Homo sapiens: one gene and its partners. The protein of the gene in region 1 interacts with the protein of each later gene in a pairwise test. Each region holds a gene or a part of one and is shown in the gene's direction. Other genes may lie near its edges. The genes, in order: RBPMS2, CELF4, PPP1R37 and RBM41.

Region 1 (7,631 bases):
TCAGGAGGCTGAGGCAGGAGAATCTCTTGAACCCAGGAGGTGGAGGTTGCAGTGAGCTGAGATCACGCCACTGCAGTTTAGCCTGGGCAACAGAGTAAGACTCTGTCTCAAAAAAAAAAAAGAAAAAAAAAAAGGCATGCTGGGCTGGGTTTGTACCCTTATCAAACAGGGCTTTCTTTTTGCCTCTGTTCACCAGCAGACTCAGTCTGTGTGCAGAGGCATCCGGCAGACGCAGCACGATGCCTCTGGGATGTACCCAGAGAAAGGAAAGGGCTTTGAGAAATTGAGTGCTGTGAAACAATGTTAATTTGCCTTGGGTATCCAAGGAGGCCCAGGAAAGGCTGAATTCCTCTAAGCTCTAGAAGGATTCCAGTTGCCTGCCTGAAGGAAGCGCTGTTGTCATCCCTGTCCGTCTTGGGCAGCCTGGCCCTGATCACTGGTCTCTGTCTCCAGGTCCGGACACTGTTTGTCAGCGGCCTCCCTGTGGACATTAAACCCAGAGAACTCTACTTGCTCTTCCGGCCGTTCAAGGTGAGTCAGGACCCAGCCGCCCCCTGGGTAGAGCCTGGGACCCTGGAGAAGCAGCGGGAGTGAATCTCGGGTCGGGCAGGGCAGCAGGATGATGCGGGAAGGCGTGGCAGAAGCTGTGGGGGCAGGTCCAGCCCGTGTCCTGGTTCTGCGAATTCACATGCTGCCTTCTGAGCCTCTGTTTCCTCGCCAGTTAAATGGAGACAGTAAGAATCTTTTTTTTTTTTTCCTCGAGACGAGTCTTGCTCTGCCGCCCAGGCTAGAGTGCAGTGGCTTGATCTCGGCTCACTGCAACCGCTGCCTCCTGGGTTCAAGCAATTCTCCTGCCTCAGCCTCCCAAGTAGCTAGGATTACAGGCATGCGCCATTATGCCCGGCTAATATTTGTGTTTTCAGTAGAGATGGGGTTTCACCATGTTGGTCAGGCTGGTCTTGAACTCCTGACCTCGTGATCCGCCCGCCCCGGCCTCCCAAAGTGCTGGGATTACAGGTGTGAGCCACGGCGCTTGTCCTTTTTGTTTGTTTTGTTTTGAGACAGAGTCTCACTCAGTTGCCCAGGCTGGAGTGCAGTGGCGTGCGGCTCACTGCAACCTCCGCCTCCTGGGTTCAGGCGATTCTCCTGCCTCTGCCTCCCGAGTAGCTGGGACTACAGGCACCCTCCACCATGCCTGGCTAGTTTTTGTATTTTTAGTAGAGATGGGGTTTCACCATATTGGCCATGATGGTCTGGATCTCTTGACCTTGTGATCTGCCCGCCTCGGCCTCCCAAAGTGCTGGGATTACAGACGTGAGCCATGATGCCCAGCTAACAGTAAGAATCTTTAAATATATGTGGTTATATAAAGAATCTTTGAGATTCAGTGTAGCCTTTTCAGTTTGCAGATGAGAAAACTTAAAAGGTAAGGTCTGTGCTCTCGGGTTACTAGTTAGTGGAGCAAATGGGAATTTCTGCCTGAAGTGATGAGTGCTGCCGCGTGATGCCCACCCTATGTGCTAGACCGCGTGATTCAGAACGCAGGGCGGTGGACGTTTGGCAGTGGCGGAGGTCAGGGTGGGTTGATGTTGACAGGGAGAAGGGTGTGAGAATGACTCAGGGGAACGCGGGGGCTGATGAGGTGGCAGCGCTGGGCTAGCACAACATACGCTTCTGACCTTCCACGGTAACAGCCACCTCTCTCCGCAGGGGTATGAAGGGTCCCTGATCAAGCTCACTGCAAGACAGGTAATTTCTCTCCTAGGGTTTTCTTCCTCCCAGCCCAGACCGGCTGCTGAGCTTCAAACAAGGGCCCGTTAACCCTTCCCTAATCTAGAGGCATCTGGCGGTACAGACTTGCGCTCCCTGTTGTCCTGTTTCTGACAGAGCAGCCTCTGTAGGTCCCACTGTCTCTTCACTGGCCATCTGAGCCCAGCCAGCTCCTGGTCCTCCCTGTCTGTTTCTTAGGAATCTGGGAGCCCCGCTGGCTGAGGACAGTAAAGCAGTTAGCTGAGCTCTAGCTTTTTTTTTTTTTGAGATGGAGTTTTGCTCTTGTTGCCCAGGCTGGAGTGCAATGGCACGATTGAGCTCTAGCTTTTAATACAAGGAGGCCAGGGCCCGCTAGCCTTTGGGGGCTATTTGGGGTCTAGACTGATCCTTGGGAAAATGAAGTTGGAGCAGTTTTCAACCTATTGCTCCTTGATAGAACCGGAGTCTTCCCATGCCCTTGATACATTGGTGTCCCCTTTCTTGCTGGGGAAAACACTGGGACTTACTTTTAGTTATCTGCATGCATTAAAAACAATACTTTTACTAAAAGGGCGACGTTTAATTCAGTGGAATTAAGCTCTGTTGGCATCATTTCCCACAGGATATTCCTGGGGAGGGAGACTTGACTTTTGGTGCATGTTAAACTGCTGTTCCAGTGAACAGGGAGGATGTGGGCTGGAGTTTTGGGGGGCTTTTTTTCCTTTTGTATTCTCATCAGCAGGGCAAATACTGTTTCCACATAGATGATACTCTTTTTTTGTTGTTATTTTGGAGGGAGAGGTGGAATGCTAGGAGAGATATAAGGGTGTTCTCTCTTTTTCCTACTAGCCTGTTGGTTTTGTGATCTTTGACAGCCGTGCAGGAGCAGAAGCGGCCAAGAATGCGCTGAACGTGAGTAGGTGGAGAACAGGTCTTCTCTGACTCACAGCCCTCTTAGGCAGTGGGTGTGCAGATGTATCTTATTTCCCGGCCATCCCTGGGCAGAGTCCTTGGCGACACTGTCTGTGCCAAAGGCCATTACTCAAGGCCTGAGCTGCCTTTCCTCTGCCTCAGCCACCGTGTGGGCAGGTCTTCGAGGCGAGCTTGTTTATGGCGCCCTTCTCTACTCTCTGCCATTAACACTCTGGGTCCCCCGGAGTAAGCCTTTCTCTTCTTTTCTCTACCCATGTAGGGTATTCGCTTTGATCCCGAAAATCCACAGACTCTGAGGCTAGAGTTTGCCAAAGCCAACACCAAGATGGCCAAGAGCAAGCTAATGGCAACTCCAAATCCCAGCAACGTGCACCCCGCCCTAGGAGCACACTTCATCGCACGGGACCCCTGTGAGTGGCACTCTGAGCTGGCAGGCCCTCATGGAGTTGCATTCAGGGCAGACTTGCAGGCTCTTGCAGAGGGAAGCCCCTTTTCCAGGAGGCTTTTTGTGTCCACGGCCACCCATTTTTGAAACACCTGGTTTTCCTCCCTCCCCTGCAGCCTGCCTAGAATTTCTGAGCTGCCAGGGCTTCCAGCTTCCCTGCAACCTTCTTTAATTTCTCATTTGAGACGAGCTGAGGCCTGTCTTAAAGCAGGCAGGATGCACACCATGACAGGCCGATTTAACGTGGCTTCCTTGCCTGGTCTCGGGGTCCTCTGTGGTTGGGGGTGGTCTGGCCTCAGTGTGGGGCATATGGCTCAACCATAGTGCTGGGTCCCCTTCTCCGTTTGGAAGGGGAGGCGAGTGTTCTGATGATGGAGGCCATTGTCTCCTGTTGTAGATGACCTGATGGGGGCTGCTCTGATCCCTGCATCCCCAGAGGCCTGGGCCCCCTACCCTTTGTACACCACAGAGCTGACCCCAGCCATCTCCCATGCTGCGTTCACCTACCCAACTGCCACTGCCGCTGCCGCCGCCCTCCACGCTCAGGTAAGCCCTTTAAGGTTGGGGAGGGCGAAGAACAAGGGCTCTTAGCTGGCCAGACTTTGCATGTGCCTGGCCACTTGGCCGCTGCTGTCCCAGAGCTGCAGCAGAACTCTTGTCTTCCTTGATGGTTTGAAAGCCCAGACCCCAGGGACCTATTTGTCCTCCCCTTGGGTTTAGGATTTGACAGGGAGGGAGAAGATAACCCACGAGTTCCCATGGAGGATGCCAGGCAGCCCAGCTGTGGTTCCCCAGCCCCAAGCACCCCTGCCCAGGCACCGACTATGTTCTCCCATGGTGATGGGACTATGATTCCAGTCCTAACCTGGGTATGGTCTCTGGAGTCAGACCATCTGCCTCTGCCCCTTCCTGTCCCTTTCATCAAGCTCTTACAGATTGCTGTGCCTCGATTTTTTTTTTTTAGTCATCTGAAAAATGGGAATGATCAGATAATCTGCCTTAGGGTTGTTGTGAAAGTTAGATGTCAAGACGAAGTGACTACTGAGTGCTAGGATGTAACCTAGAGCGCCCTGAGTGTTGGCTCTCGCTTCCATGAAGGCTGGACGCTGTCCACTGTGAACCTGTGCCGGGCAGGAAACAGGGAGTGAATGCTTCTGGGGAGAGTCGGGGCTGTTAGAGCAGGGCCAGGAAGGCTCTGTGTGGGGTGCTGGGCTGGGTGCCCAATGGGCAGGCAGGGAGTCAGGCTTTCCCCTGGCCATGCAGGCGCTTCCTCTGGTCTGACTTGGCCACAAGTGCAGGTCACTGGAGCACTCTGCAGGGGAGGTCTCATCCCACTGTGCGTGTGTCGGGGAGCAGTGGGGTGCCTCACAGTGGCAGTGACAAGTTGCAGCCAGGCAGCCACAGGAAGGGGCTGGGGGGCACTTTTGAGCCCACCTCAACCTTTGACCAGCCAGGTGATGAGCACTAATCCCCAGGAAGAGCTGCCCGGCCAGGGTGTGCTGTGCTGCTGCGAAGGAGAGAATTGAGGTTGCTGGGACCTGGCTGGGGAGCAGGAGGGGATGAGGAAGGAAAGCAGGAGAAGCCAGAAAGGAGGGTTCACAGGAGCCAGAGCTGAGGCGGGAGGAGTCGGGTGCTCTGCCCGAGAGCTGTGTGTACGTCCATTTTCAGGTTCTTCCAGGGACTCAGTGACACCTGGGTTTGTCCAGTTCCAAAGCGGAAAGTTCAGATTCAGGGGCTGCTACCCTAGCAAACTGTTTTCCCCAGCAGGGGAATGCTCCCTGGCTCCGCAACGTTCAGTTGTACTGAGGGCAGAATTGTGGTTAACCCTGGCGCTCTTCCCCAGCTGAGCACCACAAATAGCTTGAAAATTGATCAGAGGATAAGGAAGGTGGTAAAGACCTTCCCCTGGAGGGAATTGTTGGGTATTTACTGCAAACTGGGTTCTGTGGCTGGAATAGAGCGGGGAGCAGGGAAGCTCATCCTGTCTACCCTGACCTGGGCAGTGACTTGATGCTTCAGGTCAAGCGGATGTTTAACTGCAAGGCCCTGGGAGGCACTGGAAGGAATCACAGGCTCCCACCTCACTGGGCTTCTCACCTCTGATCCCAGCTTTGGCACCAATTGGCTACATGATCCTCACCTCTGTGTCCCCATCTGTAAAATGAGAGGGATAGACCAGATAAGGTGGAGAGGTTCTGCCCTATCCTCTGAATTGCTAGGCTGTGACAGAGGTTGGGAGCCAGGGACAATGAGTTTGTCAAATGAATCAGAGAGGGCACCTCTGCCCAGCCAGGTGGGGGTGGCACTGCTCTCTGGCCCTGAGCTCCACGCCACAGGGCTTCCTTCCTCCTGTTGGCTTCCTTCCCAGTTTTCTCCCACCCCATCCACACTCTGCAGCTGTCCAACTCTGGCCCAAATCCTGGTTCTCAACAGCTGTGGGACATTGGGCACGTTACCCACCATCTCTGTGTTTCTGTAAAATGGTGATGATAATGCCTACTTGATAGGTGTGTTGTTCGCATGATGGCATGGAGTCGCGTGATGGCATGGAGGGAGTGCTGTGAAAGTGCAGATGGTTGTGATGTTATTTAATATCATTATTGTCTGGGTTCCCTTGGGTCCTCTCTGAGGCTGGAGGCCTCTTTGTGCCTGAGTTCCTGCCTTCTGGCCTTCCTTGGACGGGGACTGGGATAGAGGCCACCCACCCCAAAGGATAGTGGCGTTTTTGGGGAGGCAGGCTAATGGGAAGAGATTAGACCAGGGAGTCATTAGTTCTGTCCTTGCTACTCAAACTCTCTGGGCAGCCCTTTCCTCAATAGTAAAACAGGTTGTTTTACTGTTTCCCGACTAAGAACATTTTATTTTTTTCCTTCCAACAGCCCCACTGCTTGCCCCCTGACAGTGCTGCCCCAGAGATAGGGTATAAAAGTGTCTAAATGAAGTATGGACACTGTTGATCTTAAGTGAATTGTTTTGAACCCAAAAGACCAATAGAAGGACTGAGTTTTTCTGTGCCTGGGGGCAAGGAGGTGACTTCAGGAGAAGGTAGCAGCTGAAGGACAAGGTGATGAGAACAAGTACCTCTGTTCTCTACCCCAGCTGCATGCCCTTTGCCAGTAGCCCAGCCTGAGCCCAGGCCTCCACAGCTACGTGGCTGCAGAGACCAGACCTGCAGGAGGGGTCCTGGAGGTTGTTTGGTCCTGCTCTGTCTTGGCATGAGGCTACCTTGCCTGGCCTTCTAACCCTCTTGATAGAATCTTCCCCTTAAAGAGGGTGAGGCACAAAAGCAACTGTGGATGGCAGGCCCAGTGGGGTTCAGCATAGAAAGATGGTGGCCTAAAAGCAAGGGTTCTCAGCGTCCTATTGCATCCCACGGTCCTCCCAGACTGGATTTCATTTTACGTTCCAACCTGAGGATATGCGGGTCTTCCATGGCTTTTTTCTCCCCCTTAAACTGGTTCACCCATTTACCAGTGACCTTAAGGTTACATAAACTCCCGTGCCTCTATTTTCTTATCTGTATCATGGAGATGATAATAGCATCTACTTCATAGGGTTTTTGTGAGGATTAAATGAACTTAGTATATGAAATCTACCTAGAACAGCATTGGGCACAGGGGAGGTGCTTCATGAGCAGGAGCTATTATTGTATTAGCATATCTGCATTTATGGAAAAAAACAGGCAGTTTTTGTTCTCTTCCCTTTGGCTTATCATCCAATCCCCAGAAAACCTGTACTTTTAATTCTTCAGTTCGATAGGTAGTTTGGAGCAGGTGTATAAGTAAATCTATAGGTATGAATCTTAGAAAAACTGCAATACATATTTAATCTTTTAAAAACTTAAATATTAGGGCCAGGCGCAGTGGCTCATGCCTGTAATCCCAGTACTTTGGGAGGCCGAGGTGGGCAGATTACCTGAGGTCAGGTGGTCAAGACCAGCCTGGCTAACACGGTGAAACCCCGTCTCTATAAAAATACAAAAATTAGCTGGGCGTGGTGGCGGGCACCTGTAACCCCAGCTACTCAGGAGGCTGAGGCAGGAGAATCGCTTGAACCCAGGAGGCAGAGGTTGCAGTGAGCCAAGATCGCGCCACTGCACTCTAGCCTGGGTGACAGAGCGAGACTCTGTCTCAAAAAAAAAAAAAAAAAAAAAAAAAAAAAAAAAACAAAACAAACCAAAAAAACTTAAATATTAGGACTTAAAATAAATAATAGTAAGTGTAGCTCTACATTTTGGATACCTGGCTAGTACACCATTGTACGAATGTGTCCAGCTCCCTGTAGATGGTAAATTGGTTTGTTTATACAGTTTTGCTTACTGATAGCTATACAACAATGGATATCCTTGTGTGTACTTCTGGGCACCTCTTCTGTTTTGTTTTCTTTCTTTCTTTTTTTTTTTTTTTGAGACAGAGTTTCACTCTTGTTGCCCAGGCTGGAGTGCAATGGTGTGATCTTAGCTCACCTCAACCTCCGCCTCCCAGGTTCAAGTGATTCTTCTGCC
Region 2 (7,631 bases), on another chromosome or scaffold:
CCAGTGAGCATCCCAGGGAATGGGTGGGAAAGGAGAGCTATACGGAAACCCACAAAGTAGTCATTGTCCTTTGACATTCCGGCCACAGGGATGGGGGCCTGAGACAGAGTAAGGGAGGGATAAGAAGGGGCATGGGTGAGGAGGCAATACTCAAACTGAGACCTAGAAGAAGAGGACTGGACCTTGTGATAAGTGCGCTCCAGGCAGGGGAACAGCATCTGCAAAGGCCCGAAGTCAGACCCGCCAGTTGTGATTCATTTTGGAGCCTGTAGAGGATAGCATGTGAGACGAAGGAGGAGGGGAACGCAGGCTGCCCGTGTGCTCTAGTGAGGGGTCAGCCCAGGGTCTCTGCTCCTCAGGGTGCAGCCTGCCCTGCAGGCGGGAGGAGGCCGAGTCGCTGCGATCCAGCTCCTGCCTGCCACAGCTCTCTCCGCACCTGTCCCGCGACTGTGCGCTCCTACCCCACCTACTTCTCTCCCTCGCCCCTCCCGCTCCGACTAAGCCCCGCCCCCGTCCCCCTCCCCCGCACCTCTCCCCCGCCGGCTCCGAGCCCCCGCCCCGCCTCCCCGGCTCCTCCCTTTCCCTGCCGCTCTCCCCCTCCGGCCTTGCCCTGCTCCCGCGCAGCCCGGTCCCTGGCCCGGGTAAGCATCTCCTAATTTTGTTCTAGAAGATAGAAAACTCTTCGTGGGCATGCTCAACAAGCAACAGTCCGAGGACGACGTGCGCCGCCTTTTCGAGGCCTTTGGGAACATCGAGGAGTGCACCATCCTGCGCGGGCCCGACGGCAACAGCAAGGGTGCGCGGGGCGGGGCCGGGAGGGATGCCCCGGAGGGAGGGGCGAGGCGGAGGGAGACCAGAGGGCTCCTCTGAGTCTCCGGGGCCATCGCCGTCTGTCTCTGGGCTTCTTGGTGTCTCTTTCTCAATCTCTGCCTCACCCGTCTGCGTTCACCTGGGATGCGCCCTCTCCTCCCGGCCCCTCCCTGGCCCTGCTTCTGGGTCCCAGCTCGGCCTCTCGCGTCCTCGCAGGGTGCGCCTTTGTGAAGTACTCCTCCCACGCCGAGGCGCAGGCCGCCATCAACGCGCTACACGGCAGCCAGACCATGCCGGTGAGTGCTGGCCCCTTGGGGCGGGGGCGAGGGCAGCGGCGGGCCGAGACCCCAGCACCCGCCACGCCCCGCCGGCTGTCCAGTCTCCCCAAGAGACAGGAAAGCATGACCCTTATTCCGGGCCTCAGACAAGGACGCGGAAGCCCAGGGATGTTAAGGAACTGGCCTGAGGTTACCCAGGTGGAAAATGCCCGCGGTGGGGTTCACACCTCATTCCCCTGGGCGAGCGCCGATGCCGCCTCCTCCAAAGCGCCCCGAGGAGCGGGCGGGGTGGGCGCAGGCCAGAGGCACCGACAGCTGCGGGCGGAGGCTCTGGAGCAGGTGGGTCTCACGCGCCGCCCCGGCCGCAGGGAGCCTCGTCCAGTCTGGTGGTCAAGTTCGCCGACACCGACAAGGAGCGCACGATGCGGCGAATGCAGCAGATGGCTGGCCAGATGGGCATGTTCAACCCCATGGCCATCCCTTTCGGGGCCTACGGCGCCTACGCTCAGGCAGTAAGTGGCAGCGCGCACGGGCAGCGGTTCTCAAGCTCACTCCCCTGGGAGCCTCAGAGAGCGGGACATGAAACCGAAAATACTACTCTATCCCTTGCCCTCTCCCTCCAGAGTGAGGAGGGGCCGGGAATGAACCCATGAACCTGGGGGGTTTAACTTCAGAAGGGTTTGAAAGAAGGCTGGCCCAGTTGGGGTGGCTGCCAGGAGGAGGTGGGCTGCTGTCTTAGTTCTAAGGGGCAGAGCTGAGAGAGGCCCCACAGAAAAGTGGGTTACCCTGAGCCTTTTCCTCTCAGCCAGATCAACGTTGAACCCCAGGAAGCACAGATGAGAGGGTGAGGTTCAGGTCATTGGTTGCAAACCACCCCTACTCCATGGAACGGTGACTTCAGGCCTTCTGGTCTCTCCTGGCAGGGCTCCTGTGAGGTGCCCTAAAGCCCTACACACCCACACTTCTGATATCCCCTCAGGCCTCTGGCCCACCTACTTCTTTCTTCCACATGGGGGCCCACTCTGTCAGCCTCTCCCGGAGCTGCCTGCAGACTGGTAACCACAGCTCCCATGTGGGTGGCACTGAGGCAGGCCACGGTTCTGGGTCTGAAAATGCAAGCTTACCTCACTTCTGCAGTACTGTCCGCCTTGGCCACATTCCGCAGCCTCCCCTGTCCGCACTCACCTTTGTGACAACACTAGGGGTGCCTGGGGTTCTATTCATAATTCTCCTGTCACTTCTACCAACAGACTCCAAATTAAAACCATTCTGGACAGAAACCTGTGCTAAGTGAGTTCTGCAGAGGCTCATCCAGCATGTCTCTAGTGCTTTGGATGTCACTTCCCCACGAATGACAGGCTGTACACAGGGCTGACTAGCACCCACAGAGCCAGTCTCCTCCTCTGCCCCTAGCAACAACTTTGGAGTTCCAAAGACCCTAGCATTACTTTTAAATACAGTCATCTCTCAGGGTGGTGGACTCTAATAGCTGTTGAGGTACAGGGCAAGAATGGGAGAGGCATCAGGGCTTTCTGGAGTGGTAGTTGGGAGCTTCTGGGGCTCAGAGCCTGGGAGATTGGTCTCCAGGAGCTGAGGCCCCTGTCGGGGAGGGATGCCCCCTGGAAGCACGTGATATTTTTTCCACTCCCTCTGCCCCAGCTGATGCAGCAGCAAGCGGCCCTGATGGCATCAGTCGCGCAGGGCGGCTACCTGAACCCCATGGCTGCCTTCGCTGCCGCCCAGATGCAGCAGATGGCGGCCCTCAACATGAATGGCCTGGCGGCCGCACCTATGACCCCAACCTCAGGTGAGCTGGCAGGTGCCAACACGCGGTCTGGCCCGGTGGGAGAACAGCTGGCCCCAGGCTGGGACCTAATTTCAGCTACCAGCGGACCATTCTGTGGCAAAAGCACATAGTGTCTGGGCCCGAGAGGACTTGCCTTCTGGCAGTTTGTCTCAAAAATGTTCTAATCCATGGGGATCCAAGGGAAGATGAGATATGGGACCCATGCAGTCTACCGTGTGATTTCAGGGTGGGGTGGATTTCTCTCAAGCTGTTTAACCTTATCAGGAAACAATGTATCTTGATGTTTACCAACAAGAGACCTGGAAAGAAATTGACATGAAGACATCTCCCTGTGGTGTCTATGATGAGAAGAGCCTTGGCCATTCTGTGGCCTTGTTCAGCCCCTGGCCCAAGCACAGAAGGAACCCATTTGGGTGTCGTCTTTTTTTTTTTTTTTTTTTTTTCATTTCCCTTTAACCCAATCTAGACTCACTGGCTTTTTCTAAGACAACTATGCAACAAGCTAGAGAGAACCACAAGAGTTATCAAGGGACAGGAGTTTGGAAAGAACCCAGCTCACAAATCATGTTTTTGATTGAATCTTGGCTATTGTCCAGTCCAGTGAGTCTCAGCTGTTGCAGTTATGCCCCCGAATCCCCAGGACATCTGGCAATGTCTGGAGACATTTTTGATTGTCACAACTGGGAGTGGGGATTGCTACTGAAATCTAGTGGGTAGAGGCCAGGGATATTGCTGTATGATCCTACAGTGCACAGGACAGCCACCACAAGGAACTATCTGGCCCCAGATGGTAATAGTGTCAAAGTTGAGAAACGCTAGTCTAGTCCTAAGGGCTGGTCCTGCACCCCAGGCTCTTATTCACTGAGCTTCCTTGGCTCTCTGTGCCCAGGCCACAGCAGCAACTTTCCTAACATCCAAGAGCTGTTCCTTTCCCAGGTGAAAGCCAAAAAGACTGTGCCATCTCTGGGCTCAACTTGAACACTACTCTTCACCTCTGATCCCCAACTTCAAGGGATACACATGAGCCCAGGCAGTGGCCAACCTCAGGTCCACATTCTCAGAGGGACCCTGCTTCCTACATGAGAGGAAGGCCCTTTCCAGCCTCTGGGCTTTCAGTACAATCACCATAATATCCACATCTCAGGTTCCACCCACTTGGCATAGGGAGGACACAGGGTATTGTCATTTGACCCCAACTTTATTCTCACCATCATGACCACTACTATTGCTTCAAGTGGAGGAGGCCAAGGTGTCTACTTTGTGTATGAGCTAAAGCTGAGTCTGGGCTCTGTAATAACCTCTCTGCCTCAGTACGAGAGAAGGCCAGAATTAAGACCTACTCCATCTGAGCAGAAAAACTTCCTCCTGGAGAGGCATATCAGCCCCCCAATGACCAAGTAAAGACCAGCTCATCCAGCCTTAGCTGAAGAGAGTAAGAGCACTGAAAAAGACTTAAGGAAGGCCAGGTACGGTGGCTCATGCCTGTAATCCCAGCATTTTGGGAGGCCGAGGCGGGTGGATCACTTGAGGTCAGGAGTTCAAGACCAGCTTGGCCAACATGGCGAAACCCCAACCCTACTAAAAAATACAAAAATTAGCTGGGCCTGGTGGTGCATGCTGGTAGTCCCAGCTACTTGGGAGGCTGAGGAAGGAGAATTGTTTGAACCCAGGAGGTGGAGGTTGCAGTGAGCTGAGATTGCACCACTGTACTCCAGCAACCTGGGCAACAGAGCAAGACAAAAAAAAAAAAAAAAAAAAAAAGGACTGAAGGAAGACCAAGTGTGGTTACAGTCAAGGGCACTGAGAGTAGTCTATGTGCTGTCTAAGGACAAGCCATCAGGGTCAGAGAAATCTTATTTGGGCAGGTGGAATTTGGAGTCTGCCTTGAAGGATAGATACAATTGGGATAGGTGAAGTCACTTCATATAGGGAGATAAGCCAAGGCATGGGTCATAGATAAGATTGAACTGGTATGTGAGGTCCAAGTCTATCCGCAGGTCCTTGGAAACAGTTGAGTGAAGCTTTATGGGTGGGCCTTCCTCACCTTTGTTCTGCTTGCCTCCCCTCCTCCTCCACCCTTCTGTATGCCTGGAACCAGGTGGCAGCACCCCTCCGGGCATCACTGCACCAGCCGTGCCTAGCATCCCATCCCCCATTGGGGTGAATGGCTTCACCGGCCTCCCCCCACAGGCCAATGGGCAACCTGCTGCGGAAGCTGTGTTCGCCAATGGCATCCACCCCTACCCAGGTAAGCACATCTGTCAGCACTTATTTCCGTATGCAGCACATTCTTTATCCATGCTGTCCCTGCCCTTGCTGTTATAACAAGATGTGGCTCCTGCCCTCTGTCCATTCCTTGATGAAACCCCAAGTGTGATCAGAGAGGGCCAGCCTCCCATCTTCCTTCAGGGAGCCCGTGATGGAAAAAATGAGACCAAAATCCTGCCCTTGGGGATATGTCATTCTGATCTGGGAGACAGATCCCCATTCCAGGTGCTCCCTTAGGGAAGAAAGGAGACTGGGTGCAGTTGTACAACCATGTAGAGAGGCCAGTAAGTGCAAAATAATTGAGTGTGAATTTAACCTACAAGAAGTAAGGGGATAGAAACTAGAAGAACAATCAGGGTTAGTGTTAAGTAGGAAAAGACTCTTTGGGAAGGAGTGGAGGGAGGTATAACGATTGGCAGTCTGTCTAGTACAGACCAGTCCATCCCTTGGTGCACACAAAAGCGCGATCATGGTGCACGCAAAGCGTGATCAGCACCATGGACAGGTCAGCACCACAGACAGCCCAGCACCTTGGACAGCTCCTAGACTATTTTTTCAAATAGTCTGGCACACGGAAAGATCCAAGAGGCCTGCTCCTGATTACCTTTTTTCCTCAAACTTAGCCGTCCTCACAGGGTGAGAGTGTCCAGTTGGCCTGAAGCAGCTCTTCTCCCTGGTCTGGAGAATGGGCTGCTATCAGGGCAGGGAAGCTGGGCCCAAAGCCCTCTAGTAAACTACAAGGGAAATGTGCTCCCGATGTGGAGTGCCGCCCCGCTTCCTGGAGGCAGAGGATGAGGTTAGAGTCCCCGTAAGTATCAGTAAGTACTCAGTTTGTGCTGTGAAAGGGGGGCCCAAGAAGTAGAGCAGGACATGGACCTATCGCCTGGGAGGTCAGAGTCCATTGGGAACACAATCTAAGTCTGCAGAATGATGAGACAATATGGCAGAATTAAGTTTGATCATGAGTGAGTGTTCTCAGACTTGAAATGCTAAAGATCCCAATGAATGGACAGTTCTGTAGGCTAAAGAAGCCCCAAAAAGCCTTCCCAAGGAGGAAACTACCATCGAGCATTAACAGATGGGCAGGAATTGGAGAGGTGAAGATGAACAGGGAACACCCTCCTTTGGAGGGACCTGCCTGGCAAGAGTGGAGGTGGTAAGGAGATTGGCACACACGGCAGGCAGGCCAGCCCAAGGTGAATTGGCAGCAGGGGCTGGGTCCTGTTCCCCACTCTGGGTGCCCATCAGAATCCACTGTGGGGCTTTATACAACCACATAAGCCCAGACATTCTCATTTCCCTGTCTAGAGTGCAGACCAGGCATTTGTAGTATATAAAAGTCCCACTAGCAGCAGAGTGCAAGGTCACTGTACTAGAGGGAAATAGAGGAGAATTTCCTGACTTTGAACTTGGAGTTTTCCTTAATCCCATTCCCCATTCCAGAGCTTGCCCCATAATATATCCCTCAATCCACCAAGAAGAGGCCAGAGGAGTCTAGAGAGTGAAGTGATGAGGCTCTAATGATCTGGAGTGTTGTTTAAGGATGATGACCCCAAGCTGGTAGGGTGGCAGGGTGGGGCTGTGCAAGCTGGGGGTGGAAGAGATCCCACCAGTCTAAGGCTCATGGGCTGGGAGATGGCATCCCCAGCACATCTGGGTGGCTTCATTTCCCACCCCTTCCTGCCCACAAGCCCATCTGGATCTCTGGATCCTGATAAACCTGCTCCTTCCCAACCCCCTCTGGCATCTGTGAGCTATTTCCCTCATGGAATTTGGAAATGTTTCTTCCCCTATTTGTAACAATCTGCCACATCTCATAAACAATTCCTTGCCAGAGCAAGAGGGAGGGAGGGATGGAGGGAAGGAAAGGAAAAAAGTAGTACATTAAAAAAATTAATTTACCATCTTTAAATGCGGAGTTTGGACCCGCTGTAATGAGCGAGATCCTTCAAAATGTTCACTCTTTGGCAGTTACTAATGAGGTCGTTAGGCAGAGAAGTAGAGAAGGGTCTCATAAATGCTTTTTTCTGTTTCCCTGCCCCAGGTAGCTTTTCTGATCTCCCCTCTTGGGTTCTTGCTGGATACACACAGTGTGGCCTTTACTGTCACATAAACACCCTTGAAGGGGTGGCTCTTGCAAACATTAAAGATTGTTCATTCATTCTTTTCATCATACTCTGCCAGATGCTTATGATGTTCCTGGCACTGTGCTGGCAGCTGCCATGCAAATCGTGCAGGTTATATTTTGCATGAGGGCACCAAACTGTATGCCCAAAGGAAGGGGCACCCTTTTCTAATTTGCATAAAGCCACTGCATGGATGAATAGCTGGAAAGACCAAGAGCACAATCCGGACGTGGTTCTCCTTCTATAGAGCTTAGAGGCTGGCAGAGGATAGGGGCAGAGGGAAGGCAGAGAGGAGACCACCCTCCCAAGCACATCACACTGAGGAGCCCTCAGCGCCAGTCT
Region 3 (7,622 bases), on another chromosome or scaffold:
GCCCTTTACAGTGAATGAATATCTTATAAGTCTGTTAAGACTATGTAGATACCTTATACTTCATCAAACTCCCATCCATGCTTTTTTTTTTTTTTCTTTTTTTTGACACAGAGTCTCACTCTGTCGCCCAGGCTAGAGTGCTGTGGTGCGATCTCTGCTCACTGCAGCCTCCGCCTTTTGGGTTCAAATGATTCTCCTGCCTTAACCTCCCGAGTAGCTGGGACTACAGGCGCATGACACCACACCCGGCTAATTTTTGTATTTTTGGTAGAGGCGGGGTTTCGCCATGTTGACCAGGCTGGTCTCGAATTCCTGACCTCAAGTGATTCGCCCACCTTGGCCTCCCAAAGTGTTGGGATTACAGGTGTGAGCCACCGCACCCGGCCCTATCCACACATTTTTGCATCTATTCCTTTTATATTTATTTACTTGCCAGTCTACAGTAAGGATTATATTTTCCTTCTCTTCCTTATTTATTCATTTATTTATTATTGGTATGGATTCTGGATTTCTGTTTTATCCAGTGGGTTATAATCTGTAACTATCATTATTGTATTGTTCAAATAATTCCAGATTTGGCCACTGGGAGCCCTTTCAAGCTAGCTCATGTGTGAGTGGGAATCTATCTAGAAGATAGAATTTCCTGATGGATTGGGTGGGTTGTGTGTGAGAGAAAGCTGGGGTTTATTCTTTTTTTTAGAGACAGTGTCTCACTCTGTCACCCAAGCTGGAGTGCAGTTGCACAATTACAGCTCACTGCAGCCTCCATCTCCTGGGCTCAACTAATCCTTCTCCCTCAGCCTCCTGAGTAGCCCAGCTAATGTAAAATATATATATATATTTTTAGAAATGGGGTCTCGCTATATTGCCCAGGCTGGTCTCAAACTCCCAGCTTCAAAGTGATCCTCCTGCCTTGGCCTCCCAAAGGGCTGGGATTACAGGCATGAGCCACCATGCCTGGCCAGGTTCATCTTTTGGCAAATATTTATTGCCTATAAGTTGAGATAAAAACATTATAAAAGCAGACAAAGGTCCTTGCCTTCACGGGGCTCATGTTTTTGTGCATGTGACACTTTTGTTTCTGATCCAAGCCATTGGGGGACGATGGCACAGATTTTAGGAGGGTGGATCAGTCTGGGGCAGGTGCAGTGGAGCTGCCTGGTAGACCAGCCTCTGCTTCCACTCCTCCCTCCTCCATTAGCCCCATGCTTACCATGTAATGACTTCCTGCTCTTTTTCTTCACTCAACAGCCAAGACAATGCAAACTCCAGTGAACATTCCCGTGCCTGTGCTCCGGCTGCCCCGGGGCCCTGATGGCTTCAGCCGTGGCTTTGCCCCTGATGGACGCAGAGCCCCCTTGAGGCCAGAGGTTCCTGAAATCCAGGAGTGTCCCATAGCTCAAGAATCCCTGGAATCCCAGGAGCAGCGGGCACGAGCCGCCCTTCGGGAGCGTTACCTCCGCAGCCTGCTGGCCATGGTGGGTCATCAGGTGAGCTTCACGTTGCACGAGGGTGTGCGTGTGGCCGCCCACTTTGGAGCCACCGACCTGGATGTGGCCAACTTCTACGTGTCACAGCTGCAGACTCCCATAGGTGTGCAAGCAGAGGCGCTGCTCCGATGTAGTGACATTATTTCATATACCTTCAAGCCATAAAGATATTGTGTTCACTTTTCTGCTTGAGGCTAAGGCACTGTATCCCAGGCCTCCCAATGTTCCCGAGCCAGGAACTCTGGGCCCCATGGAGTTATGAGCTCCCTTGGAATTTTGAGCCAAGCTTTAAGCAAGTCTGGACTCCTGAGACCTCCTGGGTCTAGTCAGTAAAATTCTGCAACTCTAGGAATTCTAAGATCCCATTGGAAGGAATGCTCTACCTCACAGAACTCTGAACCCTACAGAAATATGGGCCTGCTGCCATTTCCTGAAGACCGGGGCATCGGGGTGGGGTGATAAAGGATACAACCTGCACAGGGGGAAGTTATTAAAGAGGCTGCAAAGTCCAGCCACCCTGAAGATACTCCCCAGTGCTCCCCTCCTGCTAAAGAACCAGTTACCCCAGGAAAATTCGACTCCTGTTTTTCTTTAATTAACTATACCGACGGGGATGGAGTCATCTTTAGGGGCTGGTAGGGTGGTTATCCAAGGGCTGAATCCAGTGGAGCTGGGCCAAGTACGACAGGAGTCCAGATAAAGGTGTAGGGGCTGCACGGCCGCAAGTCTCCTGGAAAGGCTGGAGTGACCGGCATGCCGGGATTGGGAGATTAGGATTTGATTTCATTTTGGGGCGGGCGGTGGCTCGTGCTGGGTCACGTGGTCGTGCCCAAGCGCTCCTCCTGTTGCCCCACCTGTGGTTGCTGTGGACTGCACACGACAGCAGATTCGCTGTCCCCTCGTTGGAGGCGAATGGTCGGACCCCGAGTGGCGGCGCCCCTGATAAAAGGCCGAGGATTCGCGATCAGGGTGCAACTTCACTCCCTCCTCTTTTCTCTCCAGCCTTGCAGCGTGGCCGTTCACATCACGCGCTTCACTAAGCCTCCTATCACTAGTAACCTTTCAGCGCATTGTTTAAAAAGAAAGCAGTTTCTGTCCCTTTCTGTAGTTCCTTTAAGTTCAGGATGTAAGCGAAGCCTTCCATTAAGTAAAGGTGAGTGTCGTTTCGTCTCAGTCGCGAAAGTGCGGCGGCCGATGATGAACCGCGCCAGGAGCAGCCTCAGCGGCCATCAGTCCATTCGCAGCGCCGGCTCCGCCGAGGCCCGGACTTAGCTCTCGAGTTGCCTTGGCGACGACGCAGCTCGCTCCGCCCCAGTTCCCTTTTATGGTTTCAGCCCCGCCTCCTCTAGTTAGCCGGGTGCGCTTCGGCAAGCGTGGCGAAAGTGCGGCGGCGAATGTCAAGCGTTGGGTCTGAGCCTAGGGGTGTGGCTTGAGCTCACGCTGGTTCTTTCTTGCCTCGGTGATCCACCAGCCTTGTCACCCAGGATTTAGGTTGGCAGATTCGTCTCTCGCCTTTGGAATTTCTACCTTCTCCTAGGTTTTGTTTTTTAAAATCAGGCCTATGATACCGCTCATGGGCTCATATTTATTTTAGCATTGTAATTTAAGTTGTATTTTATGCAACTCTACCCCGATACAGAGAGCTGTTGATGTAACTGCAGCGAGCAAATGGAGGACTAGAGACTAGCGAAGGGGCCGAGACTTCGTCTCCAGAGTATCCCTGTCAGCATCCATCAACTGCACTCATATATTGAATGCAGCTCCTATCCGCCTTTCTTTTCGACTTCTTCATGCCGTTACCACTCTTCATCAGTTAGTCTAGCCTCAATGTTTTCATTTATTTCCTTTGTTTTTTTTGGGGGGGGGGGAACGGAGTCTTGCTCTGTCGCCCAGGCTGGAGTGCAGTGGCACGATCTCGGCTCACTAAAAGCTCCGCCTCCCGGGTTCACACCATTCTCGTGCCTCAGGCTCCCGAGTAGCTGGGACTACAGGCGCCCGCCACCACGCCCGGCTAATTTTTTGTATTTTTAGTAGAGACGGGGTTTCACCGTGTTAGCCAGGATGGTCTCGATCTCCTAACCTCGTGATCCGCCCGTGTCGGCCTTCCAAAGTGCTGGGATTACAGGCGTGAGCCACCGCGCCCGGCCCATTTCTTTCCTTTCGTTGAGACAGGGTCTGGCTCTGTCTACCAGGTCGGAGTGCAGGGGCGCGATCATAGCTCAGTGCAGCCTCAACCTACCGGGCTCAAGCGATCTTCCCACCTCCCAAGTAGCTGGAACTACAGGCTCCTGTAACCAGACCCTGCTAATTTTTAAATTTTTTGTAAAGACGGGGCCTTGCTATGTTGCCCAGGCTGGTCTCGAACTCCTGGACTCAAGCGATCTTCCCGCCTCAGCCTTCCAAAGTGCTGGGATTATAGGCGTGTGCCGCCGCGCCCCGCCAGGTGTTTTCAGTTCTATGCACTCCATTCCCTGGGCTCTTGACGAATGTGCGGGAGCTGAATATTCGTTATTTGGACTCCGGCAGGAAGGCGTGGGCTCAGCTTCGCGCTTGCGCGCTGCTCTTGGAGACGGCGTCTACTTCGCCCCGCCCCTCATAGTCTGCAGTTCCGGCTCTGCAGATTCGCTGCTCACGTTTCTTTTTTCCGTGGCCCTTCCTGCCCTTTGTTTCTCTCTTCATGTCACCCGCGGGACAACTCTACGTGCAAGTCGCTGAAATCGATTTTCTGCTTCTTATAGTAAGCGGCGGGCTCGCCAGCCTCGAGCGAAAGTGTGACTGCGAACGGGCAGGCGCGCGCGGGGCTCGGCGGAGGCGCGCTTGGGCTCCCGGCGGCGACGACTACGACCACTAGGAGAGCGGACGGAGGCGGCGCCTGAAGCGGCGGCGGAGCCCATGCCCCGGGACGGCGGGCGGACCCGGAGAGACAAATCCGGGGCCCGGGGCATGTCCCCGGGGCCCCCGTGAGGAGGCGGCGGCGGCTATGGAGATCGCGCCGCAGGAGGCGCCGCCCGTGCCGGGCGCGGACGGCGACATTGAAGAGGCCCCAGCTGAGGCCGGGTCTCCCAGCCCCGCGTCGCCCCCCGCCGATGGGCGCCTCAAGGCTGCAGCCAAGCGCGTCACATTCCCGTCCGACGAGGATATCGTGTCTGGAGCAGTGGAGCCCAAAGACCCCTGGAGACATGGTAGCTACCGCGGGTGAAGCGGGGGCGGGCTCGAGAGGGACCCGGGAGTCGGGAGGGATCGGTGCAGGGCCCGGCTCGAGGTGGCGTTCAATAGATTGCACCTAATGGTGAATAAGGGGACAGTCGTCAGTTTAGAACCGTAGTCTGTTAGAAAGGGGGTGGCTATGGAGTTGGGAAGGTGAAAAGTATCTGGTTTCTGCCGCACCCCACCCACCCGAGACAAAGATGGTGATCGTTTTAGGGTTTAAAACGATGAGCAATTAAAGAAAGTTTGGTGTTTTGTCAGATGTAGAGTGTGGCAGCCTTTGCGTTCGTAGTTCCACCAGAGAAGGAGAGAAGGAGCAGTTGAGAGGAGGAGCGGGTCAACACTGGGCCTGAAAGGGCAGTTGAAAGAGTTTGATGGGTCTATGGGGGTAAAAAGAGGTTAAGTTGCTGGTCTGCAAGCCTTGGGGCAAGGAGTGGTCGTGTTGGCCACTTTCTTGGCTGGAAAGAGGGAGACTATAAACTTGGACTGTGGCTATAGAGGACTTGGTAAAAAGGAGTCAAGATAAGGTCCCAGAAGAGGAGCAGAGGTGGTGGTCAATTTGTGGTTGGGTGAGGGAGAAAGAGGCAGTGTGGTTTTTATGTTTTCTTTTTTATTGAGACAAGGTCTCACTACATTGCCCAGGCTGGTCTCGGACTTCTGGGTTCAAGCTGTCCTCCCTCCTTGGCCTCCCAGAGTGTTGGGATTACAGGTGTGAGCCACCGCCGCCTGCTGCAATGTGGTATTAAGAAGAAAAGCCAACGCCTACCGCCGCCTCCTCCTCCAAAAAAAAGAGAAGCAGAAGGAAGGCTGTCAGTCATTCAGGAGCAGAGGATGTTTGGGACATGGCTACGGAAGGGTCCTCTTGTTCCTTCCTGAGAAAGAATTGGGGGATGGCCGGGTGCATTGGCTCAGGCGTGTAATCCCAGCACTTTGGGAGGCCAAGGTGGGTGGATCACCTGAGGTCAGGAGTTTAAAACCAGCCTGGCCAACATGGGGAAACCCCGTCTCTACTAAAAATACAGAAATTGGCCGGGCATAGTGGTGCACACCTGTAATCCCATCTACTCAAGAGGCTGAGGCAGGGAGAATCGTTTGAACCCGGGAGGTGGAGGTTGCAGTGAGCTAAGATCACGACATTGTACTCCAGCCTGGGTGACAAGAGCAAAACTCCGGCTCAAAGAAAAAAAAAAAAAGAATTGGGGGATGTTATCAAGTCAGAAATTGGAGTTGCTGGCCAGTAGCAGGTGAGAGAGATGAAAAAGTTGGCTACTTGAAGTGTTGGGAGAGAGGGCCAGCGCACTGGAGAGGGTCAGGTCAGTGTTGGAGCTGAAAGGAGTGTGTTGGAGCCATAGGGCTGGGAAAGTGGAAAGTCGCTTGGGACATGCAGGGCAGTGTTGAGTCCATTTTGTGCTGGAGAAGTCTGTCAGTTCTCCTGGGGTGGAGCCCATGAAGTGAGGGATCAGACTGGCTGTGGTGGCCGTGGTTCTGTAGAAGCTGATCTGCCGGCCCTGGGCAAGGGGAGAAACTATTGCCAGTCTGTGGACAATGGAGGAATTGGTGGCTTTGATGTGAGGGTGGGAAACATGGTAACTGGAAACTGAACACACAGGGAGTCCATCATGAATGACAGTTTGGCTACTTATTATAATTTTTTAGACGGAGTCTCCCTCTGTCGCCCAGGCCAATTCTCCTGCCTCAGCCTCCTCAGTATCTGGGATTACAGGCACCTGTCATCACACCTGGCTAAAAATGTTTGTATTTTTAGTAGAGTTGGGGGTTTCACCATGTTGGCCAGGCTGGTCTCGAACTCCCGACCTCAGGTGATCTGCCCACTTAAGCCTTCCAAAGTGCTGGGATTACCGGCATGAGCCACCGTGCCCGGCTGGCTAGTTATTCTTAAAGAGGCAGTGGTTAAATTAAGACTTTTGGGCCGGACGCCATGGTTCATGCCTGCAACCCCAGCACTTTGTCAGGCCAAGGTGGGCAGATCACCTGAGCCCAGGAGTTCAAGACCAGCTTGGGCAACAAGGTGAAACCGCGTCTCTGCAAAATATACGAAAATTAGCCAGGTGTGGTGGTGCACGCCTGTAGTCCCAGCAACTCAGGAGGCTGAAGTGGGAGGATCATTTGAGCCCAGGAGGTCGATAGTGCAGTGAACTGTGATTGCGCCACTGAACTCCAGCTTGGGTGACAGAGACCCGGTCTTAAAAAAAAAAAAAAAAAAAAGAGTTTTGGCACTAGGAGCCAGCCAAGTCCTTGGGCTCTAGGCCCCAGGGATAGGTGGTTAGTTTGGGACCCGGGCACAGTCAGAATGCCCCCTGGCTATTGCGTGATATCCAGTCCAGAGCAGGAAGGGGAAAGACCTGGAGAGGCAGAGCAGGGTGTTTCAAGAGCAGAGGCTCCAGGTCAGATCCTTTGAGACCTCGGGCTGGTTACCTAACTCCTGAGCCTCAGTCTTCCCATCTGTGAAGTAGGTGGCAATACTCTTGCCACGGAATTTAGGAGAGGACTGGATGAAGTCACATATGGAAAGGAATTGGCCAGGGTGAGTGTTCTCGATGGCAGTCATTGTTATTAAGACAGTGTTGGTCATCTTGGGCTGGTGTGGAGGAGTTCATGCATGGGGTGGGGCCTGGATGTGGCTGCTTCAGAGGCTTCCAGGAGAGGGGAGAGATGGCAGTCAATGCGTGGGCCTGGAGTGAGGTGCGAGGGGGAAGATGGTCAGTTTGTGGGCTGAAGGGTCAGGGGTGAGGGCAGCAAGAGAGTCTGGCACAGATTGGGCTTTGGGGGGTAAAGTTTCTGGTCTGCAGATTCCCAGAACAGGTTTGGCTTTCATTCAGTAAGCCACTTTTCCTCTCCAAGCCTCTGTTTCTTTCTCTGCAAATGGAGGTGCTAATTTTTACCATGGGGTAGTTGTGAAGATGA
Region 4 (7,955 bases), on another chromosome or scaffold:
TTCTTAGGTTTGGAACAGTCTGGTCTCCTGTGTTTCATGTTTCACCTAAGTCATAAATAAAGGTAATGTCCTAAAAAAAAACATGTAATACTGAAATTAACTATTAAAAGTTTTTAAGTGACTAGAGCTCAGTAACCTATAATTTATTGAGCTAAATTTTCTGTTGTACTGATTGCACACGACCATCGTGGCGGGTACACATTACACGAAGAAATATTTTTGAAATGAATATTAGCAACGATTAGTCTTATGAGCAGACTAAATGCCAAAATTGACATGGACTCTTTTTTTTCTACTCAAACTTTTCCAAGCAGCAGCTTCTTATCCAGTAAGTTTTTGTAACCACGCAGAATTATAGAATGTGAAAATAATCCAGAACTCATATAATCTTGTGAATTATTTCTGTAGATACACAACTTTTAAGTATAATCTTTAGTAATCTCTAATTTTTCAGTTCAGTATTATTACTCTTATACTGTAGATAAGAGTAATACTAAAGACATTTTTTCCCATTGCTTTTGGAGATTCAACTCTTGTAAAGTAGCCTGTGTACAAGTTCTACATTCAGTAATGAAAATATAGTTTATCAGAAGAAACACTGACTCTAGTCTTGTTCCTGCCTAATTAACTGGACAAATAATTTCATCTTGGGCATTATCTTTGTCCATAAATGAAAGAGTTGGATCATATTAGGGTTTCCCAAACTGTTTTGTGAGAAGGAACTGGTTTTCATTTCTCTGAAGTTTTGAGATTCCTTTATGTCTTTTCACTGTGAGTAGAGTGCTTACTCTATATTTCCTAAGTAAAATAAAGAAAAAGGAGACTACAATACTGCTTATACTATCTTACTGTTACATTATCTTCAGTGGGAGTTCTAGTGTTTTTCCTAGTACATAGAAGATGCCAGAGGATAGCAACTGGCTTCTAGATTGATCTAGTAATGTTATTAAGACTTACAGGGTGATCTCAGTATACTGTCTGGAATTGTACATTGGACTAAATCATAAATCATCTCTAAGATTCTTCCTGACCATTTCTAACATGTAAAGAAATGACATTGTTGAACAATTTTTTTTTGTTTGTTTTTTGAGACAGGGTCTTGCTCTGTCACCTAAGCTAGAGTGCAGTGCCGTGATCTTGGCTCACTGCAACCCCTGCCTGCTGGGCTGAAGTGATTCTCCTACCTCAGCCTCCCAAGTAGTTGGGACTACAGGTGCACACCACCACACCTAGCTAATTTTTGAGTTTTTTGTAGAGATGGGGTTTTGCCATGTTACCCAGGCTGGTCTTGAACTCCTGGGCTCAAAGGACCCACCCGCCTTGGCCTCCCAAAGTGCCAGGATCACAGGCGTGATCCACCGTGCCCAGTCACGTTGACAAATCTTAATTAAAAGGTCAGAAATACAGAAATAAGCTATTTTTACCAGTAATGTTAAAGCATCATTTATGTTAGGCACTGGAGTCTTCAGCCCCTCGTAACCATTGTTAACCAGCTGACATATTAGCTGAAGAATTCTTAAATTTAAAGTGTTGACACTATCCCAGTACATACCCATTTTTTAATCCTTTGAAAAGATGCTATATTTGTTCTCTATAACAGCATTTATGCTATTTCATTTGGGAAATTTGAAAGACTTGCACAGTTGTTTACTCTTAATATAAGATGGTGAGTAGATTCAAGAGAAGATTTTTGGTTTTAACATCTTCTTCCATATCTTGGAATCATAACTGCTTCATAATGTAGTCTTCAGAAGCGTGCCACAAACAAAGCACCTAAAAAGGACAAACTCAGAAAATGTGTCTCTGTTAAGAAGGAGCTTCTGGATTAATTAAACTAACCTTGTTAAATTGACAGAAAGACAAATGAGGCATATTTTTCGGTTTGTCATAAATTCTTCTAGGGGTAAAATTGTGAAATTAGGTAAGATCTCTGTGCCCATGTATAACATCTAGAGATCTCCAAGGCTTTGTATACACTGTCTGATGTCCTTTTAAGCTGGGGAGAAGAATGTTGTGGGAAACAGAATAACTATTATTACACAGTTAACAAGTTTGGCAGAATTAGAAATGGCCTGGTTTTCTTTTTAGTGTAATTTTCTGAATGTTTGTCTGTTTGTACCTATCACTTGCGCTGGTTACAGTTATACACAGGTATGTAGAGTACTTCTTATGACCTTGCTTTCCAGTTGCAATTCCACAGCTATGTGAATATGTATCTTAGCTATTCGTTCTCCACTCATCCCACCTAGTGGATTTGCAATGTAGTGTGTATCATTTCAGTATCAATAGGCTATATGTTTTATTAGAAGTTGTACACAAGTTTGGTGTGATGGTTGGTGTAATATTTGTTCCATCCTTTGCCACCGTCCCAGGGGATAAGCACACTAGCAACCTTGGTGTATTTTTCCATTTCCTTGTCAATATGTCAATTGGGACAGATTGGTTGAGCCACAAAATTCAGCTCTACCACCATATAGGATTTACCTGGTGCAGGCAATGATGTGACCCCCCGTTTTGTTTATACTTATATTCAGTTCACGTTCTGTGCCAAAGCTACAAAGTGGTACATGCTATGCCTGCAGTCATTCACCTTTATGATTCAAGAGCACAGTTATTTGCATGTGACAGGTCTTAGGTAGCTCACCATGACATTTTCAATCTGATAGAAGTTCTCAGGACAGGAAATTCTACAATGTTTTTCAGTAGCTGCTTTTTGGTCCTTTGCTCTAACTTGAGCATGGAAATACAAAGCAGTTTGGATAAGTCTAAATCTACTGATTAACATTTGACTATTTACTCATAGATTACCACTCAATCATGGAATAACTTTAAAACCATACCTTTGTATGTGCTTGACAGTCACCCTATACTTAGGAGGTATCCTCATTTTACAGATGAGAAAACTGGCCTAGACCAGTTAAGAAACTTACTGAAACCCACATGGTCTAGTAACTTACCAGAGCAAAAATTCAAGTCCAGATTGCCTCTAAAACCCTGTCGTGCTATACTGTCAACTGAGAAGTGAGATTCAAATCCAAGTAGTGTGCCCCGCCCCCCACCATTACCTACAATCTTTTCTTCTTTGGCTTCTTGAGATGTAAGAGGGTTTCTCTTTAATTAAAAAAGTATTGACTAGGTAATGTAGTCATGGGTTCAAAATTCAAAGGGCACAAAAAGATACGTGAAGAATTTTTTCTGCCCTTGTCCCTCAGCCATCCAGTTCCCCTACCTGGAGGCATTCACTCATCATTTGTCTGTAAGTTCTCCCAAACATATTTTGTGCATATACAAGCAAACACACATATATATGTTTTTAAGTGACTAGAGCTCCCCTTTTTATGCAAATAGAAGCATAGTATACATATCGTTCTGCACCTTGCTATTGCACTAACTATATTTTGGAGATTGTTTAGTAGCAGTTCATAGAGAACTTTGTCATCTTGGTAACTGCTGCATAGTTTTTCATTGAATGATACATTTTCATAGTATGTTCTTGGATATTTTCATTTCTGTTTTCATAAACAATGTTGCAAGGAATGATAGTAGGTTAGAGGATATATAGTATTGAGGATTCTATTCATAACTGAATTGCTGCTTTAAAGGGAATGTACATTTATGATTTTAGTAGTATCCTCATTTGCCCCCAATAGATGTTGTACCAATTTATATTCCTACCACTAGTGTATTGAGAGCGCCCGTTTCCCCACAATCTCAATAAAACAAGTGTGTTATCAAACTTTTGGATCTTTCCCAATCTGTTAGGTGAAAAATGGTAGTTTAATGTACTTTTAAAAATAAACTTTAAGTTCTAGAACAGTTTTAGATACAGAAAGGTTGCATAGTACAAAGTTCCACATACGTACAACTCAGTTTCCCTTGCATAACTCTGATACATTTGTCACAGCTAACGAACCTTGTTATTAGCTAAAGAGCATAGTTTGTTCACATTTCCTTAGTTTTTACCTCATGTCTTTTTTTCTTTTCCAGGATCCCATCCAAGATACTGCATTACTTTAGTCATCATGACTCCTTTGGTTCCTTTTGGCTGTGACAGATTCTTGTGTTTTTGATGACCTTGCTAGTTTTAAGGAGTACTGGTAGTCAGTGTACTTTAAAATTTGTGAGATTGGACATCTTTTCATACACTTAAAGACATTTGCATTTCCATTTCTGGAAACTAAGAGCCTATGCTTTTAACCACTATACTATACCTCTTTCTTGATTCACCATAATTATCAATAAAACATATGTGGGCCTGAACATACACAGACTTCTGATTCTGAGTGGAGAAAACTCTCAAGTCTCTGTTACAGATAGAGGAGAACCATTAGTACAGGTGATATAGTCAGACTCGTGTCTGATGACTCTGGCTACATCGTGAAGGATGAAGCAGAGGCTCGACTGGAAACGGTAGGTAGGCTGGATAAATCCTTGAAAGAAAAGCAGTGTTGATAAGTTCAAAGGAAATTACAGAAGAGCCAGGAATTAGTGGTAATGGATGAGAGAATCAAGAAGTCAAAGGTGACTCGTTTTATGAGCTGGATATTTTGGGTCTTCTTTTGAACCTAAATGAGAAATTCAAAATAAATATTTGGACAATGTTCAGCATACCTGTCACTTGAGATCTACTTTCTCTTTCTGTTGCCATAGCTCTGTGCTACTACAATTCCCAGAGCCCCATGCTCCATCACAATACCCTTAGAAGTCCGCCGCGCGGAGTTCTGGGACTTGAGGTCCGCGGCCTATTTACCCAAGTTGGAGGTAGGGGCCTGTGGAAACATGAAGAGGTAAGGACTTGTCTGAAGAGCAGGCGGCAAGGGGAGCTTTGTTCTACCTTTTCTTTTGAAAATGGCTTCCATTGCTTTCTGGTTTGGGTATTGCACGTTCTCAGGATGCGGTTTCGTGGGAGCGGGAACACGACAAAGGAGACGGGAGGAGGGGAGACGGGCTGAACAGGCCTGCAGAGCGAAGTTCAGGAAGGGCTGCCACCGGGGCCGGCTGCTGTGGGAATGCCCTCCCGGCACGGGCCCCGGGAGCTGGCCGGGTGCTGCGGCTTCGTCGTTTCACCCGGACCCAGCTGGGCAAAAGGGTTTGAGGCTGACAAATTCCCGGCGCCGGAGATGTAGGTACCTCGGGCCAGCCCCTCGCCGTTCTCCCCTACCTCCACCTCCACCTGAGAAAGGCTCGGGGCGGGCGCATTTATTTGCAACGTCTGTGTGTTAAAGACTACTTGCTTGGGCCCCGAAACCATGTAGCGCTTTCGAATCTTAAAGTAAGGGAGCGGTACTTTGTTTCTAAATGTGGAAGGACAGCACCAAAGCGGTTCGATTTATGGGGTGGGGGGAGGGGAGGTGGAAGGCATTGCTGGGCTCAGTTCCCCTTACTTGTCCTGAGGTAAATGGCCGCTTGAGCCTAAATGGCCTGAGCCTCCTAACTATTGACGGGCTTAAATTAATTTTAGATTCACTCTGCAAGTAGAATCATCACTCTGGAATAGTGCAGTGCATTTAAAATTCTTACTGATATGCTTTCCTGCACTGTCAGTTCCTTGCATCTTTTAAAAAACCGTTTATGACTTTGCCTGCCTGAAACTAACCTTTAATATTTTTTTATGATATCTCCTCCATGCGAAATAATGTATAATGTATATATACAGCTTAAAGAATAATAAAGGTTCGCATCCACTACAAGCTTAAGAAATAGGACATTGCCAGTCCCTTAGAAGTCTACTGTGTCTCTTCCCTCCCTTCGTTCCCCCCTGAGGTGACCACTATCCGGAATTTTGTGTTATTAATTCCCTTGCTTTTAAAAAAGCAAATAGTTTCTAGTACATATGAATTTATCCCTAAACAAAATGTTCCTAGTCATGTATTTGAAGTATTCCTGATACTTCATGCTGGCGTTTCTATTGTAAAAGCTACTAGACTCAATGTGGCTAAAACAATACTGACTTTCCCTTTCCCAAATCATTTATTCCATCTGGAGCTTTGTCTTTCCTTCATTGGTACCATTGTTCTCTCAGTTACACAGACTGAAATTTTGGGATTATCTTTGACTTCCTTGCCTCTGCCTCCAAAAGGCCTCTCTCATCTAACCCTTTCTTTCCATTTTCACTATTACCATTTCAGTCTAGACCTTCATCACCTTTTACTTCAGTAGTTTCATAACTAGTTCTTCTTGTTTCTTCCCTTTGAATCTCTATGGCATATTATAACCACATTCATCTGTCTAAACCATCACTTGCACTGTGTCACTTAACTGTTTGATAAATTACTACTTCTTATTATCCTTCAGTATATATTACTATCCCTTTGTACTCTCTTTCCCTGTTCTCCTTTTCTGCATCACACACCTTTGAATGTCAGCTTAAAAGTACCTTTCTGAAGTCTTCCTTTACCACCTTTATCTCCCAATTTTCTCTTCTGTGAATTTCTACTAATTTGGCATATGCTTCTATGTGTTATTATTCTCTCCTCCCCCCGCTGCCAAGGCACATGCACACAACACATAAACACACACTTCTTCTCCCTAAATAGATTGTGGGCTTCTTGAGGATAGGGACTATGTCTTAAACACCTTTGACTTCCCTCAGTACCTAGCATAGTGCCTTCTGTGTAAACAGGTATTTAGTAAGTGTTCATGGACTAAATGGTAAAGGGCAATGAATTGTTGGAGAAGTGTCTTTGAATAAATGGGGTCAGTAATGGTAGATAATATAGATAAGGAATATATTTTGAGACTCACAGTCTCTTCCGTTTTCTGTATATATTCTTATGTCTACTCCAGGGTAAACAGCTGTGTGAAGAGTGATGAGCATGTCCTGGAGGAGCTGGAAACAGAAGGGGAGAGGCAGCTGAAAAGCCTCCTTCAGCATCAACTTGATACTTCTGTCTCCATTGAGGAGTAGGTATTGATTTTGCAAACGGAGAGTATCATAGACTCTTACCTCCAGGTGACAGATCTCTCTTAAAGCCTAGATGGAATGTTCCTCTCCCACCTCCCTTTCTTTGTTAGACTTCAATGTATTAGGTAGGGTTTTAATTCTGTGTCTCTTCCTCTGGGAAGCCTCCCATATCTCACTAAGTCTGAGCCAAGTACCTATTTTATGTCCTCCTACAGCATCCCATATTTCCCTTAACATAGCACTTGTAACCCAATATTATCATTGCCTGTTTACTTGCCTCTGTTCCACTGTTTTTCCACAAAAGCAGGAGCCATTTTTATCTTTTTTATAAAGCTATTAAATCCTTAGTACCTAGCAGAGTATCTGATGCATAGTAAGTACTCAATAAATATTTGTTGATTTAGTTTATTATTCCTGGATGACGGCACTCTCGATGGAGTTCCATTTTGTTGCAGTGGTGCTTCAGCTTAGAAATAAGATGTAAGAGAAAATTTGCTGGTGAGTTTCATTGTACCTCTTACAGTGCTGAACCTCCATTTTTGTGAATGATAGTAACCTCAAGATGTTCTTACTCTCCTCCTGCATGTTTTGCAGATGTATGTCTAAGAAAGAGAGCTTTGCTCCTGGTACTATGTACAAGCCCTTTGGGAAGGAAGCAGCTGGGACTATGACTTTGTCCCAATTCCAGACACTGCATGAGAAGGACCAGGAAACTGCTTCTCTCAGGGAATTAGGGCTTAATGAAACAGAAATCTTGATCTGGAAGAGCCATGTTTCTGGTGAAAAGGTGAGTGGGGTAATGTTTTTTTTTGTTGGTTTTTCTCCTCAAAGAAACAGAGCAAAATATCTTCATTTTAGCACTGAGAGCCTTTTCATTTCTAGTTCTCACAAAACTGAGCTTGGTGTCTGAATCTTCTTTGATTTTTAGAATGCAGACATTGGTAAAAGAGAAGCTGTTCTTTAACTTCTTAGCTAACACTTTCTGTAAACATTCATTTCTGGGCCTAGGTCATCTTTTTACTTGAGATACCAGATCATCATGTTCAGGTTG

Evidence for each region.
Region 2: the proteins of RBPMS2 (region 1) and CELF4 interact in binary tests that used the Homo sapiens proteins (3 or more experiments, as listed by UniProt).
Region 3: the proteins of RBPMS2 (region 1) and PPP1R37 interact in binary tests that used the Homo sapiens proteins (3 or more experiments, as listed by UniProt).
Region 4: the proteins of RBPMS2 (region 1) and RBM41 interact in binary tests that used the Homo sapiens proteins (3 or more experiments, as listed by UniProt).

The regions. Positions count from the first base shown.
Region 1 is NC_000015.10:64,744,461-64,752,091, reverse strand, and holds part of RBPMS2 (RNA-binding protein with multiple splicing 2), read left to right. Parts: intron 1-453; coding exon 454-531; intron 532-1,710; coding exon 1,711-1,749; intron 1,750-2,598; coding exon 2,599-2,661; intron 2,662-2,941; coding exon 2,942-3,092; intron 3,093-3,524; coding exon 3,525-3,673; intron 3,674-7,631.
Region 2 is NC_000018.10:37,268,280-37,275,910, reverse strand, and holds part of CELF4 (CUGBP Elav-like family member 4), read left to right. Parts: intron 1-182; exon of another isoform or gene 183-266; intron 267-667; coding exon 668-796; intron 797-1,026; coding exon 1,027-1,106; intron 1,107-1,315; exon of another isoform or gene 1,316-1,451; intron 1,452-1,456; coding exon 1,457-1,600; intron 1,601-2,747; coding exon 2,748-2,895; intron 2,896-4,993; coding exon 4,994-5,143; intron 5,144-7,631. UniProt on the Homo sapiens protein: RNA-binding protein implicated in the regulation of pre-mRNA alternative splicing. Mediates exon inclusion and/or exclusion in pre-mRNA that are subject to tissue-specific and developmentally regulated alternative splicing.
Region 3 is NC_000019.10:45,088,856-45,096,477, forward strand, and holds the start of PPP1R37 (protein phosphatase 1 regulatory subunit 37), read left to right. Parts: upstream 1-4,323; 5' UTR 4,324-4,470; coding exon 4,471-4,672; intron 4,673-7,622. Other genes in the region: GEMIN7 (gem-associated protein 7), read left to right, coding at 1,260-1,655. UniProt on the Homo sapiens protein: Inhibits phosphatase activity of protein phosphatase 1 (PP1) complexes.
Region 4 is NC_000023.11:107,115,598-107,123,552, reverse strand, and holds the start of RBM41 (RNA-binding protein 41), read left to right. Parts: upstream 1-4,730; 5' UTR 4,731-4,779; coding exon 4,780-4,787; intron 4,788-4,967; exon of another isoform or gene 4,968-5,009; coding exon of another isoform or gene 5,010-5,122; intron 5,123-6,786; coding exon 6,787-6,903; intron 6,904-7,308; exon of another isoform or gene 7,309-7,402; intron 7,403-7,498; coding exon 7,499-7,691; intron 7,692-7,955. UniProt on the Homo sapiens protein: May bind RNA.